Homo sapiens: one gene and its partners. The main gene of each other region encodes a partner of the protein of the gene in region 2 in a complex. Each region holds a gene or a part of one and is shown on either strand. Other genes may lie near its edges.

Evidence for each region.
Region 1: PIGP (region 2) and PIGH share a complex: the UniProt entries of both Homo sapiens proteins name them as parts of the glycosylphosphatidylinositol-N-acetylglucosaminyltransferase (GPI-GnT) complex.
Region 3: PIGP (region 2) and PIGQ share a complex: the UniProt entries of both Homo sapiens proteins name them as parts of the glycosylphosphatidylinositol-N-acetylglucosaminyltransferase (GPI-GnT) complex.

What each region holds. Positions count from the first base shown.
Region 1 is NC_000014.9:67,590,224-67,593,882, forward strand, and holds part of PIGH (phosphatidylinositol N-acetylglucosaminyltransferase subunit H), read right to left. Parts: coding exon 3,520-3,659; intron 2,496-3,519; coding exon 2,412-2,495; intron 2,214-2,411; coding exon of another isoform or gene 2,092-2,213; intron 1-2,091. UniProt on the Homo sapiens protein: Part of the glycosylphosphatidylinositol-N-acetylglucosaminyltransferase (GPI-GnT) complex that catalyzes the transfer of N-acetylglucosamine from UDP-N-acetylglucosamine to phosphatidylinositol and participates in the first step of GPI biosynthesis.
Region 2 is NC_000021.9:37,067,372-37,070,129, forward strand, and holds part of PIGP (phosphatidylinositol N-acetylglucosaminyltransferase subunit P), read right to left. Parts: intron 2,254-2,758; coding exon 2,181-2,253; intron 10-2,180; coding exon 1-9. UniProt on the Homo sapiens protein: Part of the glycosylphosphatidylinositol-N-acetylglucosaminyltransferase (GPI-GnT) complex that catalyzes the transfer of N-acetylglucosamine from UDP-N-acetylglucosamine to phosphatidylinositol and participates in the first step of GPI biosynthesis.
Region 3 is NC_000016.10:582,130-584,609, forward strand, and holds the end of PIGQ (phosphatidylinositol N-acetylglucosaminyltransferase subunit Q), read left to right. Parts: intron 1-118; coding exon 119-180; intron 181-753; coding exon 754-906; coding exon of another isoform or gene 907-1,505; 3' UTR 1,506-1,980; downstream 1,981-2,480. UniProt on the Homo sapiens protein: Part of the glycosylphosphatidylinositol-N-acetylglucosaminyltransferase (GPI-GnT) complex that catalyzes the transfer of N-acetylglucosamine from UDP-N-acetylglucosamine to phosphatidylinositol and participates in the first step of GPI biosynthesis.

The DNA of each region.
Region 1 (3,659 bases), on a different chromosome or scaffold from region 2:
GCAGTGGTGCTGCATCCACTTGCAAATTTTTTTTTTTTTTTTTTTTTGAGACAGAGTTTTGCTCTGTTGCCCAGGCTGGAGTGCAGTGGCGCAATCTCGGCTCACTGCAACCTCCGCCTCCCAGGTTCAAGTGATTCTCCTGCTTCAGCCTCCCGAGTAGCTGGGATTACAGGTGCTCGCCACCACGCCCAGTGGCACAATCTCGGCTCACTGAAACCTCTGCATCCCGGGTTCAAATGATTCTTGTGCCTCAGCCTCCCAAGTAGCTAGGACTACAGGCACGAACCACCATGCCCAACTAATTTTTGTATTTTTAGTAGAGACAGGGTTTCACCATGTTGGCCAGGCTGCTCTTGAACTCCTGGCCTTAAGTGATCTGCCCACCTCGGCTTCCCAAAGTGCTGGGATTACAGGCTTGAGCCATGGTGCCGGGACCACATGCAACTTCAATCTCTCACCCACATCAAGGGGTATAAATGACACAGCAGTGAGCTCATGGAGTTAAGAAGTTTAGGCCTCAGCACACCTTGCTGGAAAGAGTCCCAGCTAGGCTTACAGCACAGCTTGTGAACTATGCGAGGTGGGAGATCAAATGATAGCTTTTTAATCTGTCTAAATTTCATGAACTCCATCTCTAAGAATAAGCAAGAGGAAAAACAAAATGGACCCTTGAGAAATGTCACAAGTTGTAAAACAGCCCTCAAACACAAGAAGTGCAGTTTAATATGTAAATATTGAAAAATGTTTTACACAATGAAATGTAATAACCAAAATTAAAAGAAAAGCCACAGAATGGAAAAAATATATGTGAAAGTATATTTAATAAAAGTGCACTACCTAAAATATATAAAGAATTGTTAAAAATATATAAAAATAGATACAAATACATAATATTCAGATTCTACTTGACTAATAGAGAAGATAGGTAGTTTAAAGTAAGAGGAAATACTGATAGGTAATACAAGGAAATATGAAAAGCCTATCATTTAAAGAGATACAAATTTAATGCCTTTACCTACATATTAAGCTAAAAAAGCTAAATCCACTATTAGCCAGGATGGTAGAAAAAGAAGTACAAAATCCCCAAAGTATGATAAAGTTGTCCAATCTCTGGAGCCCGATCTTAAACACTAGAAATCTATAAAACTATTCATAAGCTTTAATAAAATAATTTTGAATTACAATGCAAAATAATTTTTGGCTTATCTTAAATCCTTTGTGAAAAAGGTCAGTGAGGCAGGGTTAACTGTATACATAAATACATGCATAAATACCTACCTCTAAATTTATTATTTTGTAATTTATTATGTTTGTATAATTTTTGTTTTTTGAGATGGGGTCTCTTGTCACCCAGGCTGAATACAGTGCCATGATCAAAGCTCACTGCAGCCTTGACCTCCTGGGCTCAAGCAATCCTCCCACCTCAGCTTCCCCAGTAGCTGGGACCACAGATGTGCACCACCATGCTCAGCTAATTTTGGTATTTTTTGTAGAGATGGGGGTTTTACCATGTTGCCCAGGCTGGTCTCGAACTCCTGAGCTCAAGTGATCTGCCTGCCTCAGCCTCCCCCACAGTGTTGGGATTACAGGCATGAGCCACTGCACCAGCTGATAAGTGTTTTTTTTTTTTTGTAAGAGCAAAACAAAAAAACCCAGGCATGATTTTAAAAGCTGGCAAGAGTGGCTAAATAAACTGATATTTCAATATATTATACAATTATTTAAAATAATAAATATAATGGCCTTTGTAGGATACATACATATTAAATTATTTACAAAGCAAGACACACAATAGTGTACAATGTAAGATCAATTACCTCTATCTAAAAAAAGTGTACAGTAGTAGACTGACAGAGTCAAAGTAGATGAATGGTGATTTATAGGCAGAAGTTGCTATATATTTGATTGTGTTCTTTAAAATGTGCATGAGGCCAGGTATGCTGGCTCATGCTTGTAATCCCAACACTTTGGGAGGCTGAGGCAGGAGAATTGCTTGAACTCAGGAGTTCAAGATCAGCCTAGGCAACATGGCAAGACCTCATCTCTACTAAAAATAAAAAAAAAAAATTAGCCAGGCGAGATGGTGCACACCTGTAGTCCCAAGTTCTCAGGAGGCTGAGGCAGGAGGATTTCTTGAGCCTGGGAGGTGGAGGCTGCAATGAGTGGTGATTGTCACTGCACTCCAGCCTAGGTGACAAAGTGAGACTCTGTCTCTAAAATAAAATAAAATGTGCATGAATATTTTTAAGGAATACATTTGCCTCAGAGAGGAACTTCTCAAATAACTGAAATCCTAATTATCACTCAAAACAGCTGTCAGGTATCTTCCAATACTCTGACAAAAGGAATTTACATTCCTAATGAAAAGGTTGAGGAGTAATTGGAGAATGGTAAAAGTATTCTATGCTCACCTGGAAGACGGGTACTACTTGGGATATCCCATGTGGTTCCACTGGATCTTTCAATAAGATGCAGAGGTAGTAAATCACCTTCTGCTGTAAGAAAATAAATCAAATAGCAAAGTCTAAGTGAAACTCATTTTGCATTCTTTTTTTCTTTTTCCTTTATTTATTTATTTTTGAGACAGAGTCTCTCTCTGTTGCCCAAGCTGCAGTGCAGTGGCGCAATCTCGGCTCACTGCAACCTCTACCTCCCAGGTTCAAGCGATTCTCCTGCCTCAGCCTCCCAAGTAGCTGGGATTACAGGCGCTCGCCACCATGCCCGGCTAATTTTTTGTATTTTTAGTAGAGATGGGGTTTCACCATGTTGGTCAGGCTGGTCTGGAACTCCCGACCTTAGGTGATCCGCCTGCCTTGGCCTCCCAAAGTGCTGGGATTACAGGCGTGAGCCACCACACCTGGCCACATTCTATTTTTCTAAGGGAAGGCTCAACACTTTTTCACAAATGTTTAAGTAGTAGAACACTTGATAGCTTTTGAAGTGGAAGAAAAGTATATTCTCATTCTTTAAATGAAAAAAGACAGGGCCAGGCGTAGTGGCTCAAACCTGTAAACTGAACACTTGGGGAGGCCACAGCAGGAGGATGGCTTGAGCCCAGGAATTCAAGACCAGCCTAGGCAACATAGTGAGACTGCATCTCTGCAAAACATAGAAAAAACGAGCCAAGCATGGTGGTGCATGCCTGTAGTCCCAGCTACTCAGGAGGCTGAGGTGGGAGAATGGCTTGAGCCTGGGAAGTTGAGGCTGCAGTGAGCTGTGATCGAGCCACTGCACTCCAGCCTGGGCAACAGAGTGAGACCCTGTCTCAAAAAAAAAAAAAGAAAAAAGATAGAAAGAGAAGGAAAAAATGCCAGTGATAATTTTGAAGTTGGTCTTGAAGATAAAGTTGAAATGCTAATTCCCTATCCATGAAAACCTGCTGCATCTCTTTAAAAATAAAGAGATTTACCTTTTAAATATAAGTCTCACTTTTACGGTTTTAGTTTAAATCTGGGAACATCCCATGGGCTGGCTACCTCCTCCAGAGAGGCCTGTAATACTTACCTTTTAAATACTTACCATGTAAATGGCCTCATTGATGACAATATCCTTGACCTTGCCCATTTCTATGAAGGTAGTGCTTTCTTTGCCTGAAGCATAAGATGAAGTCATCTGAATGCCAAGGGAATCAATGATTAACAGAGTCTCCTGATCAATCT
Region 2 (2,758 bases):
GCCCAATATCTGCCAAAGAGAATATTAAAGTACATAATAGACACTTTAAAAAAGTTGTAATTCTCAAGAGTCGGTCACAAAGCCAACATGTTTTTTAAATTTAAATTTTATAAAGTAATATGTGTACATAAGAGACAAATAGTTCCACAAGGCTTACAGTGAAAAACTGCAGTCCTCTATCCCACCATCCCAACCCTGGGGTCTCACTCTCCAAAAAGAAATGCTTTGAGCACTTGAGCTGTCTTCTGGTACTTACCTCCTCATTGCTACAAAACATGCTCATATTACTATTTCCTCATTTTTTTCCATTACAGACATTTTCTCTAGGCTTCCTAATATGGAGATAAGGAATTAACCTCCTCCTATCCTCTTCTATACTTACATTGCAATTTCTCATTATAGCAGCAGGTTTTAGAAATAATTGTACCTACATAAACAATTTTGCAACTGAGGATCTTAGTACATTATTATTATATATTTTCTTGTACAACTTTTTTTTTTCTGGAATAATTACATCTTTTTGTCTGTTCACTTGGTTTCCCAGGAATCCACCAATACCAGAGCCTCAAATTCTCTGATAGGACTCTATTATGCCTCTCAGTATCATTATGTACATGGAGTGCTATTTTTCATTGAGTGTTTTTTTTTTCTTTTTGAGAAAGCATTTCCCTCTGTCACCCAGGCTGGAGTGCAACGGCATGATCACAGATCACTAGCCTCAATCTGCTGAGCTCACTTCAGCCCTGCAAGTAGCTGGGACTATAGGCACACACCACCACACCTGGCTAATTTTTAATTTTTTTGTAGAAATGGGGTCTTGAGATGTTGGCCAGATGTTTTTTTTTTTTTAAATGATTTGTTCTCTATTATTTTCTCTTTCTGGAACTTCTAATAGTTTGAATTTTTAACGATTATACTTTCTTATATTTTCATTTTTTTTTGTTCTAACTTCTAGAGATTACCTTTGTTTTATTTTCCAGTCTTTCAATTAAAATTTTAATTTTGGTTATCATGTTTACAATTTCCAAATACAGTAATTTCCTGTTTGCATAGCATTCTGTTCTTGTTTCATAGTTATAATTGTTTCTTACCTCTGAGAATTTTATGTTATTTAAATTTTTTTTTCTGTTTCCTGCATTATCTCTATTTCCTTCAAATTCCCTTTAATTTTCTGCTTTTTCATTTCATGCTAGAGGCTTTCTTTTAATGTCTGGTAACTTAGAGTAGTCCATTCATATTTAAAAATGAAGTGCTAACAAGTGAGTTGGAAGCACTATGTGTATGTGGGCAGGGATGGTCAACTGGTGAGCCTCACTCTGAGAGACTTGGCCACTTCACTGGGGTCCTCTAAATGTCAGAAATTATAGATCCTTTCTCTCGGGCTGGTCAGCTTCCTCAGGAAAGAACTATCTATCTTTTTCTGTGAGCAGTAGGGTGATATAAGCCTCGAAGCCCCAAGAGGGAAGATGGAGCAGGAGGTAAATCTTCTCATTAAGCCATGTAGATTTTCACTTACTTCCCTGTTTTCAGTAAGATGCCGCATTCCCACACTCAGACTTAGTGGCCCCCATGCTAGAGACTCTTACTTAACCTTGCCAGAGAGTAAAACTCCTGTTTTCTGCAGGGGAGGGCAGGGCAGGCCTCCCAGCTTTGAGGGCTGAGGGAGATTTGAAGGCTGAAGACTTCATATGGTCTTTAAACATGTTTTCAGTTCAACCCAGAATTAAAGAGCTACCTGGTACCCCAATGTCTGAGCTATTCTGGAGTTCTAAGGCACAAATATTCTTGCTGGCTTCCCTACTTCAGCAACGTGAAAATCACAGAAACAAAGGCAGTTACCTCTCACCTATCACAATCCACTTTCCAAAATGTGGTTGATATCTCTTTTCTGCTATACTATTGTTTCTGTGGTTTGTATCTTCAGTTTTTTTTTTTTTTCCTGTAGGGTCATTTTAACAAGATTTTTGGAGGAAATGGATGGAGATAAACATGTGTGTTCATGCTACCATCTTTAATTAGAGATGTATCAATAGCGATCTTTAAAAAGCTTTCAATTTCTATATGGCTATTCATGAATTTTAAGAGAACAAATATTTAAGATTTGGGTAGGTTTAAGAAATGATATGACTCCTCAAAACAGCATTAATTATATCCTCATTTAAGAAATATATTAAACTTACTTTTGAGGCCAATAGGTTAAACCTAAAGAGTTTAGCCAAGATTCAGGAATAAAGGCCCACACGAGGTAAAGTACTGTAGAAAAGAAAAAGAAAAAAAAGAGGAAGAGAAGTCAGTAAGACATACATCTAATCTATCAATCTATTAAGATTCAGATAAAACAGAAAAGCTCTTTTGAAGTGTCCCTGATTAACTCAGAAATGATTTTTTCCTCCTTTCAGTTCTTCTAGCTCGTTTGCACAATTCTTATAATACTTATAATTACTGTATTAGTCTTTTTTTTTAATATCTTAACTCACATTATATTTTAAGCAATTCAAGGATACAAATCATGGCTTAGCAATTGTTGTAATCCTTATTACCTAGCAGTTTGCTTTAGGTACAGTAAGTGTTCAATACTTCATCCCCACAAGGTTGAAGTAATTATAGACATTTAATTGCTCAAAGGGAAATTTACCTACCCTAGTTCTCATCCACCACATACTGAGCTTCTGCCCTATCTCCCAGAGTACAATGTTATTTCCCTCAATCCGAAATCTCGGCACTCTTTACTGTTATCCCACGATAACAACAATGGCTA
Region 3 (2,480 bases), on a different chromosome or scaffold from region 2:
GGTGGCCACGGCCAGCAGCACCCGGGTGCCCCTCAGAGAGGAAGGTACCTGCAGCCTCTGCTCATGTGTGGGGCCAGCCCCCACGCGTCCCCTCGTCAGCCGCTTGCTATCCTTGCAGCTGGCGTGAAGTTCCGTGTCCTCCGGCACGAGGCCGGCAGGCCCCTCCGCCTCCTGATGCAGGTGAGGCCCCTTGTGGCCAGGACGCCCCTACGCTGCTGCCCCTGTTCTGGGACGGTGGGGTCAGCTGGGTGTAGTGTCTGGGTGGCACCACGCCAGCCTGCGATGAGGTACAGGGAGGGCCCAGTGGAGCTGAGGGGGAAGGCCCACGCGGGACCCCCTCCCCCTTACCCCCAGGGCCTGAGGACACTGGTGTGGTCCTGTGGATGGGGCCCATTCTGCCCTGTGTCGGAGGCGCCCTTGGCTGGCTGGGGCTGCCCTGGGCCCCACAGGGCTCAAGTTCTGGGTGGAACAGAACCGACTGAGTGAGTCCTGGGGTGGGGTGTGCGTCCCTGTGGCACGGCCCCTCAGAGTTGGGCAGCCCCGAGGGGAGATGCAGCTTCTGCCTCCCCCCAGCGCTCCCTTCTGGCTGCAGGCTCACTTGCCTCCTTGGGAACTGGGACTGGCTTCTCCCACAGGCAAGGGAATGTCTGAGACAGCACTGGCCCTGCCTCACAACTGCCCGCCCCCACCCTCTCTCTGCAGACGGGGTTGGAGCTCAGACCACCCCACTGACCGCTGCCCTTGTCCTTCCAGATAAACCCACTGCCCTACAGCCGCGTGGTGCACACCTACCGCCTCCCCAGCTGTGGCTGCCACCCCAAGCACTCCTGGGGCGCCCTGTGCCGCAAGCTGTTCCTTGGGGAGCTCATCTACCCCTGGAGGCAGAGAGGGGACAAGCAGGACTGAGGGAACTGCTGGCTCGCCTGGCACCACCACACGGCCACAGCCAGCCATCTGCTCTGCCAGGGTGGCACCAGCTCAGCTGGCGCATGTCCTGTGCTTTGTGGACGCTGCTGTGTGCTCCTGAACACGGCAGGCCCTGCTATCACACCTTGGGCTTGGAGGTCATTGGGAGTGAGCAGATGTGGGGGTGGCCAGCCAGGCTGGCCGCACTCCATCACTGGCACTGCCTGCCTTGGGACCCGCTTCCCACCTGCTGCGGTCACCATGGTGGCGAGCACAGCAACCCCAGGTGTCCAGAGCACTGCCCCATGCCCACCCTGTGTACCCAGGTCCAGAGGGTCCGTCCACCACAGCAGCCCCAGGTGGAGGGCTGGTCTCCCTGGGGGCTCCCCAGTGGCTCTGCCCTGGCTGTGGGGGTGGAGGGACCTTGCCAGGATGAACCCCCCAGTCCCAGGCACCCTCTAGCTCCCTCAGCCGAACAGCACCCTGCATCTGGGGGATTGAAGCAGTCGCTGACCCCCGTCCCCAGCGGGCCCGGGCCCTCACTCCCTGAACCACACGGGGTTTATTTGCGGATGTTCCCTGGAGAGGTCGCTTTGTGAAGAAACCATCAGCAGGCTGTGAGCATCGCCAGGCTGCTGTGGGGGCGGGAGCAGCCTCAGTGTCAAGGGCCCGCCCACTGACCCAGCCGTACCTATTCGTCCACGGTGCCCCGTAGCAGCAGGTCCTGCGGCCAAATCTGTCTCCCTTCATGGGCCTCCCAGGGAAGGAGGAAGCCCTGCTGTGCAGACACCTCTGTGGCCCCCCAGGAGTGTGAGTGGCCTGGGGAGGGGGCCGTGGCACTGAGGCCGAAAGTGCCTGCCAGACGGCACGGTCTGGGTGCGGGTGTTCCCTGTGAGCCCGAGTCCGCTTCAGGAGGGGAGCCTGCAGGTGCCGGCTGGTGAGGGGATGACGCGCTGTGGGTGGGAGGAGGCAGCGCCCATCTCAGCAGCACCAGGACTGCCTGGGACTCCCTGGCAACCCAGCACCGGGGAAGCCGTCAGCTGCTGTGACAATAAAACCTGCCCCGTGTCTGGAGCGCAGGCTCGGTCCCGGGTCCATGTGCAGCGCGGGTCCAGGGAAGCTCTGGGGGGGGGGTGTGTGGACGCTACTCGAGGGACTTGGGCTGCCTCACGTGGGTCTGCCCTGCAGAGTCTACACCGGCCTCCTGCTGGAGGCCCTGACGACGGCTGATGGGACGGGCTCACAGGCCCTGGGCCCTTGAGGACTTTGGTGTAGGCAGGTGAACCCGGGCCGCCCACCCTGGGGGCCGCCCACCCTGGGGTCGTGGCCTTGCCTCGACATAGATGGTGCAGGGGTGTAGGCCTCCAGGGGTGGGGCGAGCAGCTCCTGCTCTGAATCTGTGGACTCCATGTGGGGTGGGCCCCTCGTGGGTCCTGGCCCAGTACAGCCTGCGACTGCCACAGCTGCTAAGAATGGTCTCTGTCGCCTGCAGTGCTGGGGGCCCAGCTGGCGGGCCCCACAGCCCGTTCCCAGCCCGAAGTGTACAGGCCTCCATCCAACCTGGACTTCCAGGC